3 separate regions of the Homo sapiens genome follow, and regions 2 and 3 are each reported to be linked to region 1. Evidence: microRNA targets listed by miRTarBase, many of them from high-throughput screens and not tested one by one. Region 1 holds a microRNA gene; each other region holds the end of a gene's coding sequence.

Region 1 (4,737 bases):
ATCCTAATAACCTCCCTCACCCGCCCACCACACACACACACACACACACACACACACATGTTTTTCCTTATTAATTGGTCTTTGAGTTAATGGCCTGAGACACTTTCAAATGGAACATGATGGTCCTTTATGCAGTTAGAACTCTGGCAAGAGAACAGTCACTTTGTTGGGGTAGACCCATTGATTTGGTGCTAGAATGTTTCAGATGTAGATTAGATAGGAATCGAGTGGGACTGACTCAAAGGCACTATTTATTAGCTCACATGCCCTACCTAATCTTAGCTGATGTGTCTGTTGTTTGCTTCTAGTACTCAGGTGTATTTACCAATGTTCATCTGTAGCCATAAGTTACTTAGTATACCCTCTGACTTTCTTGAAAGTCTGACCTTTCCCCCTCTATGACTTCTAGGAGAATAAAATGGAAATATATACATATTCCTTTTTTTTTTTTTTTTGAGACAGAGTCTCCCTCTGTTGCCTAGGCTGGAGTGTAGTGGCTCGATCTCACCTCACAACAACCTTCACCTCCCGGGTTCAAGTGATTCTCCTGCCTCAACCTCCCAGATAGCGGGGATTACAGGCGTGCACCACCATGCCTGGCTAATTTTTGTATTTTTAGTAGAGACAGGGTTTCTCCATGTTGGCCAGGCTGGTCTCAAACTCCTGACCTCAGATGATCCACCTGCCTCAGCCTTCCAAAGCGTTAGGATTACAGGCATGAGCCACCATGCCTGGCCCAATATATACATATTCCTGTTGCTTGGCCATGATCTAAAAACTTGAAGGGGCTATCTGCCAGAAGGTTTTGGGATGATATCTGTTCAGTTCTGAAGGCAAGTCTGTGCATATCTCATCCCTCACTGACTTTTGCAGCCACTTCTATACTAATAACGTTGCCTTCTACCCTGAACGCTGAACTGTCCTATTTTGGAGGCTCTTACGGGTTAGTTCCCCAGAAACCATCTGTTCCAAATGTGCTTGATTTCAGCTTAGGACTTTCCAGAAAAGCCTTCCTTGACTTAGAAGAAAGATAACATTCATTGATCTTGCTATGCTCCCATCTCATCACTTCCATTTTCCTCCCCAGGGACACAACAGTCATCAGTCACTCTCCTAACACCAGCTATGACACAGCTCTAGAAGCTCGCATCCAGAAAGAGGAGGAAGAAATCTTGATGGCCAATAAGCGTTGCCTTGACATGGAGGGCAGGTAAAATGTTGTTCTGGACCCTGAGGAATCTGAGACATTGATATAGAGACCACATAGGATCTTTATTCACAGCTAGGAAATCTGATCATGCAGCCTCCCCGCTCCACCATCACCCCTGCCAGCCTGTCACTTAAAGGTGTGAGATGCAATGACCTTTACCTTGATAATCTCCACTAAACATGGAATTCCAGGTAGGGTTTCTGTCCCTTTGGCCTTCCTAATTGCTTTTCCTCTTCCCTCTGCCTGAGCTGAATTGTTGGCATTTGCACTCTGGAGTATTCTTTCTAGCACTGCACCACAACCCTGTGATACAGCAGATTGCTTAATAAAAGAGTAAAAGAACATCTGCTCGGCCGGGCACAATGGCTCACACCTGTAATCCCAGCACTTTGGAAGGCCAAGGCGGGCGGATCACCTGAGGTCAGGAGTTCAAGACCAGCCTGGCCAATATGGTGAAACCCTGTCTCTACTAAAAATACAAAAATTAGCCAGGTGTGGTGGCGGGCACCTGTAGTCCCAGCTACTCAGGAGGCCGAGGCAGGAGAATTGCTTGAGCTTGGGAGGCAGAGGTTGCAATGAGTCAAGATCATGCCATTGCACTCCAGCCTGAGCGACAGAGCTAGAGTCCGTCTCAACAACAACAACAAAAAGAACATCTACTCAAAGTGGAGGTAGGATACCTGATTCCTTTTATAAACACATGATCATTTACTTACTACCTGCAGGTTGTCGCTCATTCATAGATCTCATCTTCTCACTGAGTAAATTGTTTCCATTGACTGAGATTCTTCACTACAGCACCTAGTACATCAGTTCATTCTCTCATATTCAGCCTTTTTTTTCACTGGTACTTTATTGTGACTTACTAAGATTTAAGCAACAGCTCCTGGATGCTCTGCTGTATCCATTTGGGTGTGCAGAAAAAAGAAAAAACATGTTTTAAAAACTGTAGCACACCATCCCTTGTTTTCCAACTCAGAACTAACTAGATCAGCCTTTAGTCGAAAAGATAATGGGAGCTCCACGTAGTCATGTAGTCAATTAGACCAAAATGTGGAGGTAGCAAGAAGGTTTTTTTTTTTTTTTTTTTTTTTTTGAGATGGAGTCAGTCTTGCTCTGTCACCCAGGCTGGAGTGCAGTGGCACTATCTTGGCTCACTGCAACCTCCGCCTCCCAAGTTAAAGTGATTCTCCTGCCTCGGCCTCCCGAGTAGCTGGGACTATAGGCGCCTGCCACCACACCCAGCTAATTTTTGTGTTTTTAGTAGAGACAGGGTTTCACCATGTTGGCCAGGCTGGTCTCGAACTCCTGACTTTGCAATCCGCCCACCTCGGCCTCCCAAAATGCTGGGATTACAGGCGTAAGCCACCGCGCCCAGCCCACAACAAGGTCTTTATATGTTCTTTGCCTTTGGCTCCTAGGATTAAGACCCTCCATGCCCAGATTATTGAGAAGGATGCCATGATCAAAGTACTCCAGCAGCGTTCCCGGAAGGAGCCGAGCAAGACAGAGCAGCTGTCGTGCATGCGGCCAGCGAAGTCTCTGATGTCCATTTCCAATGCTGGATCAGGCTTGCTCTCCCACTCATCCACCCTGACTGGCTCCCCCATCATGGAAGAAAAGCGAGACGACAAGAGCTGGAAGGGGAGCCTAGGTAATGACAGTAAATAAGGAAGATTATAGTCACGTGTTCAAAGAGAGCCCTGAGATAAGCACCCATGCTTAAGGAAAAGGGATGATGGTCCAGGTTCTAGAGAGGAAGGTGTACCAGGGTTTTGGAGTTTTTTTTTCCTCCTGAGACCCTAGTTCCACATTCTGGAGCTCCTCCACACTTTGAAGTCTCCCGGTGAGAATACCGATTGAGGCCAAGGCTTAGAGGACAAGAATCTTGAGTTTCATTTGGGTGTCAAGGAAGATAACTCTAATTTCCTCTAAACTATTCTCAGATTTGGCCTTTGCCATGTGGCACCTTTATCTTTCTCCAAAGCCCATGTGGCCTTTGTGTCGTTCCAAATGTCAAAATTCCGGCATTTCTGTGTTCCTTCCTCCTCTATAATAGGAGAACCCAGAGTTTTAGTTACACTAAATCGTTTGGGTAGCAGGTTTTGTTCCCACAGTGTTGTGAGATGAGAACAGAATGTACTTTTTCATTCCGTTCCTGTCCATTCCCTCCCCTCTAATCAAAACCCCAGACATATTGTGGATACCACGAGGCACATTTTTAGAGCCCGAGGAAGGAAGCTTATATATATTTTTATTTTAACCCTTTTTGTTGCTGTTAATTCCTTTCTTGGTCCTCTGATACTTGTAATATCTTTTGGTTAGAATAAGCATTTTGGGGACTATGGTCATGGTGAGAACCTCAGATCACACAATTATTACCACACTCAATCTGTGTCAACAGACTTCTTCCCCAGATCCTTTCTTGCTCCCTGGTAACGTGTGGTAATGGTTTATAAGTGGAGCCGAGTAGGAGCATTCTGACAACTTGGTGGAACCCAATCACCATTGGAAAAATAAATCAAAACAGATACCCAGGTCACTTACAGGCTTAATATGTTGTGCCAGGTGATGGATGAGGACCAGAAGGGATCCTCGAAGTCTGTAGGAAACTTTTAGCCATGGTTGGAGGAGCCTCACACACTGATTTCTGGGTTCCCTGGAGGCAAAAATAAATAACTTAGACTATTCTAAATTATTTAATATTTAAAAATAATAATATTTTAAATATTTAAATAATATTTACTTATTTAAAAATAAATAAATTTCTTCTGAAATTTGAATGGGAGAACAGGTAATTAGATGTCTGGATTTGAATCACCTATTGTTTTCTAACATCTGTTCCTCTTTCATTTGTAGGCATTCTCCTGGGTGGAGACTACCGTGCTGAATATGTCCCTTCCACACCCTCGCCTGTGCCACCCTCGACTCCCCTGCTCTCGGCTCACTCCAAGACAGGCAGCCGAGACTGCAGTACCCAAACTGAACGTGGGACGGAATCGAACAAAACTGCAGCTGTTGCTCCCATCTCTGTTCCTGCTCCAGTTGCTGCTGCCGCCACTGCTGCCGCCATCACTGCCACTGCTGCCACCATCACCACCACCATGGTAGCTGCTGCTCCAGTTGCTGTTGCTGCTGCTGCTGCTCCAGCTGCTGCTGCTGCCCCGTCTCCAGCCACTGCCGCTGCTACTGCTGCTGCTGTTTCTCCAGCTGCTGCTGGTCAGATTCCAGCTGCTGCCTCTGTTGCCTCAGCTGCTGCCGTTGCTCCTTCTGCTGCTGCTGCTGCTGCTGTTCAGGTTGCTCCAGCTGCTCCGGCTCCAGTTCCAGCTCCGGCTCTGGTTCCGGTTCCAGCTCCAGCAGCGGCTCAGGCTTCTGCTCCTGCTCAGACTCAGGCACCAACTTCAGCTCCGGCTGTGGCTCCAACTCCAGCTCCAACTCCAACTCCAGCTGTGGCTCAGGCTGAGGTTCCTGCAAGTCCAGCTACCGGTCCTGGACCACATCGTTTGTCTATACCAAGTTTGACCTGC
Region 2 (4,000 bases), not on the chromosome of region 1:
AGAAAACAGGGGCGTGAGAGGACTGAGGAATGGACCAGCTCTGCTTAAGCCCTGATTTTATTCCTAAACCCTCCTGTTCAGCCTCCCCTGGCAAGTGTGGTGACTTGTGCTTCCCTGCCCTAGATTTATTTCTGTTGAAATCTGTATATAGAATGGCTCATGTAGTGCCAACATCCTGTGCTCGCGGCTGCCACTGGGGACCTCGATCTGATACTTGGTGATCTCGCCCTCTTTTGTCTTAAGCCCTCTTTGTGTGTTCTGCTTTTATAGTGATTTGCATGAATCGAAAATTGCCACATATTCTTTGAAAGCAATTAAGTCTCAATAATAGGACTCATGCCAGCTTGAATGTTTAAGTGCCTGCTAGGATAGCACTTTGTTCTCAGCCAGTTTTCAGCATTGTCTGTGGTCCTTTGTTTATCCAAAGATGCACATCACAGACATGAAATTGCCTCACCTGCCTGGCTTAGAAGACCTTGGTATTCAGGCAACACCACTGGAACTCAAGGCCATTGAGGTGCTGCGGCGTCATCGCACTTACCGCTGGCTGTCTGCTGAAATTGAGGATGTGAAGCCGGCCAAGACCGTCAACATTTAGTGCCTCCTGAGCAGCTCTTGGTTTTGGCGTCTTTTGGGTCGGCCCATGTGGTTTGAGCACCCAGCCAGGCGGTCTCTTTAGAGGATCCTGTACACAGTTCCACTATTAAAACATTTCAGGTTGAATTCTGCAGTATTTTCTTCCTTGATTTACAAAATGAGAAATGTAGTCACTTAGAACTTGAGCATGATTTTTGTTAAACATATTTAATAATGATATATATACTATTTATTCTCTGAAATGCCAGAGAGTTTGAATTTTCCTATGACAAACCACTTCTAGCATACGTTCTAGAAGACAAGGACCCTTTTTAATGTCAAAGTATTGTAAAGACCCCAAGTGATATGTGATTGTTTTTTAATTTCCATTAAATGAGAGAGCATACAGTATCCCCTAACCTGAATGTGTTTACACTGAAGGTGTTTTTAAAATTTATTTTAATAATGTCCATATGCCTTTTAAAAATAGTAGTACATATATAGAAAAACATTGTCCATAGATTCTCAAACCCCTTGCAGTAATTCCACAGTCTTCTTGGATCTGAGCTATCTGAGGCCAGCCCGATGCCCTTAGTACCACATCTGGATTATTTCAGACACATAGGTGGAGATAGATTCTCTTCACATGCAAAGGAGATGCTTCAGCTTCTATGCCAGCAGTGCCAGCACTTAGGAATTATGACCTTCTAATGAAGTTCTTAAAATTGCAGCCAAGACCCAGATGAACATTTGGTTTAGTGTTGGCAAATCCCACCAGTACAGTGTGATTTAAAACTCCCACAATTTGTGGTGAAGCCAACATACCACCATCCTAGGTGACCCAGGGTTGGTCATTGTGTTTCACTGGACTTCAGCCTCCTGATCTATATTTGGGACAGGGATGTCAGTAAAAACGCTGTTTGATGAGGGAATGCCCGTCTCCTTACAGAGAGAAAGGTATATCAGTGTTGAAGGTAAGTTCTCCACCTGCCCTTTCTGCCTGCATCAGAATCTTTTTATCCCAAAACGGTCAACAGTGAGCTACTCCAAGTGTGGTCCATAGATCACCAGCATTGGGATCATCTTGGGGCTTGTTAGAAATGCAGAACCCGGGCTGGGCACAGTGGCTCACACCTGTAATCCCAACGCTTTTGAGTTGCTGTGGTGGGACGGTCGCTTGAGGCCAGGAGTTTGAGACCAGCCTAGGCAATATGGCAAGACCTTGTCTCTACAGAAAAATTTCAAAAAGTTAGTAGGGCATGGTGGCACGCACCTGTAGTCTCAGTTATTCGGGAGGCTAAGGTATGATGATTGCTTGAGCCTGGGAGTTCAAGGTTACAGTGAGCTATGATAGTGCCACTGCACTTCAGCTTGGACTGAAGATCCTGTCTCAGAAAAAAAAAAAAAAAAAGGCAGAATCCTAGGTTTTGTCCTGTCCCAGGCGTGTTGAATCAGAATCTGCATTTTAGCAAGGTCTCCAGGAGATTTGTATGCACATTACAGTATGAGAAGCACTGCCATACAGAAGAGCTGTATCAGAGTTCAGTGTGATCCCTGTTATTAATCCAGGTTGCTGACCCCACCCCAGACCTACTGAATCAGAGTCTCAGGAAGGAGGGCCCAGGAATTTTAGTTTTATTAAACATTCTAGTTTATTCTCCTGTACACTAGTATGTCAGAATCAGCGTACTAGGGAAAGGAACACAAACCCAACTTCACGTTTTTTCTTCAGATGCTGTCTGTTATTTTGGATGACACCCCTCCTGGCCATAAGCCAGCCATTAGGCACAGAGATGGGTGGATTTAATTTGAAAAGGAACTATAATTCTATAATGCACAGTGTCCTCTCTTAGAATATCTACACTTTCTTTCCTTTTTTTGATTCTTAAAAAAAAACTTATTGATACATAATAGATGTAAATATTGTCAGGGTATATGTGGTAATTTGATATATTCATATAATCAATCAGTGTAATTGGGATATCCATCACCTTAAACATTTACCTTTATGCTAGTAACATTCAAATTACTCTCTTCTAGCTATTTTGAAATGTACAGTAGATTAGTATTAACTCTAGTTACCCTACTGATCTATTGAACACCAGGTCTTACTTCTTCTGTCTTAACTGTAATTATCTTCATTTTCTAGCAATGCTATTTCTCATCTCTAACTTGTATCATCTCAGGATGCTGTATATTTCTTTTATTTTTTATTTTTTATTTTTTTATTTTTATTGATCATTCTTGGGTGTTTCTCGCAGAGGGGGATTTGGCAGGGTCATAGGACAATAGTGGAGGGAAGGTCAGCAGATAAACAAGTGAACAAAGGTCTCTGGTTTTCCTAGGCAGAGGACCCTGCGGCCTTCCGCAGTGTTTGTGTCCCTGGGTACTTGAGATTAGGGAGTGGTGATGACTCTTAACGAGCATGCTGCCTTCAAGCATCTGTTTAACAAAGTACATCTTGCACCGCCCTTAATCCATTTAACCCTGAGTGGACACAGCACATGTTTCAGAGAGCACAGGGTTGGGGGTAAGATCATAGATCAACAGCATCCCAAGGCAGAAGAATTTTTCTTAGTACAGAACAAAGTGAAGTCTCCCATGTCTACTTCTTTCTACACAGACACAGCAACAATGTGATTTCTCTATCTTTTCCCCACATTTCCCCCTTTTCTATTCCGCAAAACCACCATCGTCATCATGGCCCGTTCTCAATGAGCTGTTGGGTACACCTCCCAGACGTGGTGGTGGCCGGGCAGAGGGGCTCCTCACTTCCCAGTAGGGGCGGCCGGGCAGAAGCGCCCCCCACCTCCCGGACTGGTCGGCTGGCTGGGCGGAGGCGCCCCCCACACAAACACTGAAGCCGTAGCATTGACTAAGGAAACAATTTTACCATCCTAAGCTAGTGGATGTCACCCTCTCAGTGTATGGAGGTTGCATATGACAAGTAACTGGGAGCTGGGCATAAGATCTAGGACACTCATATCCAGGGTGATTCTCTTCATAAGGAGGCATGGGCTGAGTCTCCATTTATAGGGGCTGTCCCCATAGAGACTTCAAGCCACACCTTTCTAGGGATTCAGGTTGCACATTACCTGATTCTCACAGTTGATTTGAGCCTGCAAGACTGTAAACCCATCCCATTATCATGTTTTCTTCCTCATTTACCTACATTTATCATTAAACCTTTGTGATTCAGCAAATCTGTTTACCTTCTGATTCTACTTTAAATTCCGTTCATGTTCTTCCTTGGCCCTCCTGTGTATTTCCCACAGCTTTGCTAGGCCTTAAGATCATCTCACATTCTTCATCCTAATGACAAAAATAAGTTCTATGGGCTGGGCGCGGTGGCTCTTGCCTGTAATCCCAGCACTTTGGGAGGCTGATGGGGGTGGATCATGAGGTTAGGAGTTCAAGACCAGCC
Region 3 (4,000 bases), not on the chromosome of region 1:
TTAGGAATGTTTATTTTATAATCAAACAGTATATGTGACATTGTTTGTAAATAAGGCCTGTGTACCAAGGGATACTAAACAATTACTAAAAATATACACGATAACGTGAGTTTTGTATTAACCACTGTATTTGTATTATAAATAAGTGAAGGAAAGGGCATGAAAAAAATAAATTAATCCTTCTATTGGCTTGCAATGTGGCTATGAATATTATATGTCTCTGAGTCATTTAGTCATTTGTTACTTAGATAACAAATATCCATCTGGTAAGTAGTTAAAATTACTAGAACTATTTCTCAATTAAGAATGATTTTAACACAATAGGCTTCTAGCCATTGGTTGATGTGGTTTAAATAATATTATCACACATTCTAAAAAGGGAGCCTCAAAATAAAACTCTGAAATAAAAATATCTAACACAGCCAGGCACGGTGGATCACACCTGTAATCTCAGCACTTTGGGAGGCCAAGGCAGGTGGATCACCTGAGGTCTGGAGTTCGTGACTAGCCTGGCCAACATGGTGAAACTTCATCTCTACTAAAAATACAAAAAATTAGCTGGGCATGGTGGTGGGTGCCTGTAATCCCAGCTACTCGGGAGGCTGAGGCAGGAGAATCACTTGAACCCAGGAGGCGGAGGTTGCAGTAAGCCGAGATCCCGCCACTGCATTACAGCCTGGGTGACAGAGCGAGGCCCTGCCTCAAAAAATATATATATAGATAGATAGAGATATATATTTAATACTGGAGATCAACGTTATCCCCACTTGAGTATGATCCAGTTCATTCTCTCCATATTAGACCACATGTATTACCATATTCTCTAAATTATCATCATATTAAAATAGGAATTCAAAGTTAGCCCCAGGCAGAAGGGAAAGGGAGCTGCCCCAGGTGGTCCTGCTGCGTCTTTCCTCCCCATTCCCTACTGCTGCGCCACTCAGCATCTGTTGTCTCTTACACGGCACTCTTCAGGGGTAAGTTGGGCTCCTGGATTCAAACTTTTCTTGTCCTCCTTCCTCCTTTCGTGTCTAAGAAAATTTACCTGTTCTGTGGCCTAGTCTTGCAAGGCCCCTTGTGTGAAGCTAGCTAGATACTATCTCTATTTCCAACAATCAATGGCCTTTACTGCCTTTGTTCACTCAACAAAACCGAGCATCTACTAGGTACCAAGTATTATTCTAGGTGTTGGGGATAAAGTGGTGAACAAAACAGTCAAAAATCCACTCCTCAATCTCGTGAAGGAAGAAAGAAATAATAAGCAAGAAGTTGTAATCAGTAATAAGCATGACCAAATGCTAAAGAGAAAAATAAAACATGAGAGGGAAACAAGGAGCTCTTGGGAGGAGGTGCCAGAGACTCACAACAAGATTACAACACCAGAGTTCACAGTTAGCAAACAGCAGTACTCAACATTCTTACATACTTAAAAATATTCCCCCCAAATCACCCTAAATATAAAAACAAAGTTTTTTAGTAAAAGGCAGCTAATTATTTCTATTTTTTAATCTAAATTCAAAGTGTTCCATCCTACCCTAAATAAACAAGTGAAATCCCAACTGTAGAAATACGTTCTTTTCTTAAATGACTCACTATTCATCAAAACAATACTAATAGGATGGTGGCTATGAACATAGACTGTTGAGTAGAAAGCATGATACTTTTTAATACTCTTTATAGGGACAGGACAAATCCAAGCCATTACCGTGAGGAAAAAGTTCAAAGCATATGCACCCTGAGTTACTGAGAAAAGCAGAGTTGCAAATAGGGTAAATGACAAGATACCATTCCAAAACCACACAGCTTCCCTTTTTATTGATGCTCAAGAAGTGAACTTTAAATGACATTTCATAAGCAAAACACAAATGAAAACACCTAATGTGCATGTATAGTATATGTAAACATACATAGTATATGGACTCAATCATCCTCATCTAAATATAAAGAGAACAACTGGTTCTTTGACCTCAAAAATAAATTCAATGTTGGCATTACTGTTTTTAACTTACAGTGTTTTATATTTAACAGGAAAAATTATGAATAACCAAGTTTGGTGTGGTCATGGATTTCATGTTAAGGTATAAATAGAGTTTTTAAGAAATAATCTGTATAATAAAATAAGTTTACTTTTGAATCGCAGTACAGTCATTTCCTTCAATCAATAAAAATATTCCTTGATTACAAAGCAGCCTTATTTTGCAAATGTATTTCAGGAAAATAGCTCTAGCAATATTTGAAATACCACACTATTTTAAAAAGGCAGCGAAGTGACAGAATTTAGATTTAAAATAGTATATTGCAAAATAGTTCAACATATTATTTCTAAGCACAAGGCAAGCTCCATTCTGAAGGATGCTTTTTAATCTTATAAAGCAAACTGTTCCAATATTTCTGTGGTAAAGTCTAAATATTTACAATAAAAGATGAATCTTTACACAGACAGGACATAAACTTCAATACCTAACCACAATGCAAACATTTTACATTATGACATCACTCTAATGTGAAGCTTAGTTTGTTAACATGTGCTCAAGAAGGAAAATAAAAACAATACAGTTCTGTAGCTTTGTAACAGGCAGAACTCTGCAACAATTAGAGAAATAAAAACAGCAAACAACACCAGTTCTATGAGTAACAAAACAAAAAAAATCCAGATATTATAAACATTTAAGTAAATAACTAATACATCCTTCCTGATATATCTTTATTTGCTCTCTTCTGTTAAATACGTTTTTTAAAATGTTTCTCATATCCCAGGAGGAAAGGACAGTAAATTATTCACAAAGATAAAAGTGCATCATGTTTGAAAAGTGCTTTGTGTTTATGTGTTACAAACATATCCAATAAGGAAGTTAAGTAAGTCTGTGCAAAAAAAATCTAATTATTACTTGAATTCATAAACCTTAATCATGGGTTTTTTGTAGTTCATCCAGATGAAGCAGTCAAGCAGCAGAAGAAAAATCTGAGATTAGACATTTTGTATAGCAGAAAGAGCACTGGGCCACAAGTGAGGAGACCCACAGTCTATTCTTAGCTCAGTTAACCAACCAGTTAGTGACCCCAGGTAAGACGGGCTTCCATTTCAGTATTTGGCAATGGGCAAGAAGCAGAGCTGGAGAGCCTCTAAGGCCCCTTCCAACTCCAAAATTATCATGTATCTTTAGATGAGGCATTTCTGAAAGGGCAAATAATTTTACCAAAATATAAAACTACATACTAGTCATCTAGCTACTACTCACTCATTGGACTTATTAGTAATAAAGCACAGAAAGAAAGAAAAATTCCAAAAATGATTGACAAAAAAAGGTCACGTGAACATTACACATAACCAAAGCTAGAGAAACCCTTCACAATTAGGGCACTAAGAAAAATCCATTATGATGTGCAAAAACAAAACAGAATAAGCAAGAAATGCAACAGCTGGTCACCTGATGGCACTTTTTCTTCCTGAGTCCCAGAATCTTCTTGGAACCTAAAGCTTTAATTGGTACTTATTTTGAAAATTGCTTTAAAAGAACCATGATTCCCCATAGTTCATATTCATGGCTTTGTAAAGAACTCTCTCTGAATTGTTATAATGGTTTTTAAGAAGATAACTATATTTTCAAAATTTTAATATGGCTAAATAAAGTAAACCATTTACCATGGACTCTTTATTTACACCAAATATATATATTTGAGCTTATTTAATATTTTAGAAGCTTAACAATTCTCATCCACAAGTTTTGACCCATTAATTCCCCGATAGGTCACTCTGCTCGGTCGAACTAAGACTCCATGGTTCGGCTTACAGGTGAAATAGCGCTTGTCACCCACTGACCCATCATTTTTTCCCTTGGCGCTTCGGAGCTCAAGTCCAAGCCAGATACCTGAAGCAAAGTCAGTGGGGCCCACATACCTAACAGTACCCATCTCATTGGAGCTCGTGAGCAGGACCTGAGACCCCTCGTGCAGCTTCACGCTCCCTTCAATGCCACCTGCGGTGGGGGTGCTGCTCCAA

What was found. The annotated mature microRNA hsa-miR-4329 reads CCUGAGACCCUAGUUCCAC and lies in region 1 at 3,004-3,022, shown strand. An mRNA with a match to its seed (bases 2 to 7 or 8) in the 3' UTR can be bound and repressed. Matches are read on the target gene's strand: a 7mer-m8 pairs with bases 2 to 8, a 7mer-A1 pairs with bases 2 to 7 and ends in A, and an 8mer does both.
Region 2: the mRNA of NDUFA9 is a reported target of hsa-miR-4329. Seed matches in the 3' UTR shown: 7mer-m8 at 1,855-1,861, 8mer at 1,964-1,971 and 7mer-m8 at 2,180-2,186.
Region 3: miRTarBase lists CLIP4 as a target of hsa-miR-4329. Seed matches in the 3' UTR shown: 7mer-A1 at 2,962-2,968.

Annotation. Positions count from the first base shown.
Region 1 is chrX:112,779,013-112,783,749 of GRCh38, reverse strand. MIR4329 (microRNA 4329) reads left to right here and starts at 2,962; the gene lies at 2,962-3,032. It overlaps AMOT (angiomotin), which reads left to right. Exons shown (of 14, transcript NM_001113490.2): 11 at 1,088-1,210; 12 at 2,632-2,864; 13 at 4,070-4,737. RefSeq lists an enhancer at 3,857-4,357.
Region 2 is chr12:4,686,511-4,690,510 of GRCh38, forward strand. NDUFA9 (NADH:ubiquinone oxidoreductase subunit A9) reads left to right here. Exons shown (of 11, transcript NM_005002.5): 11 at 428-4,000. The coding sequence ends at 598. Among named protein-coding and RNA genes, the nearest start is that of GAU1, 32 kb to the right of the region's middle.
Region 3 is chr2:29,181,596-29,185,595 of GRCh38, reverse strand. It overlaps CLIP4 (CAP-Gly domain containing linker protein family member 4), which reads right to left. Exons shown (of 16, transcript NM_024692.6): 16 at 1,788-4,000. The coding sequence ends at 3,703. Among named protein-coding and RNA genes, the nearest start is that of CLIP4, 68 kb to the right of the region's middle.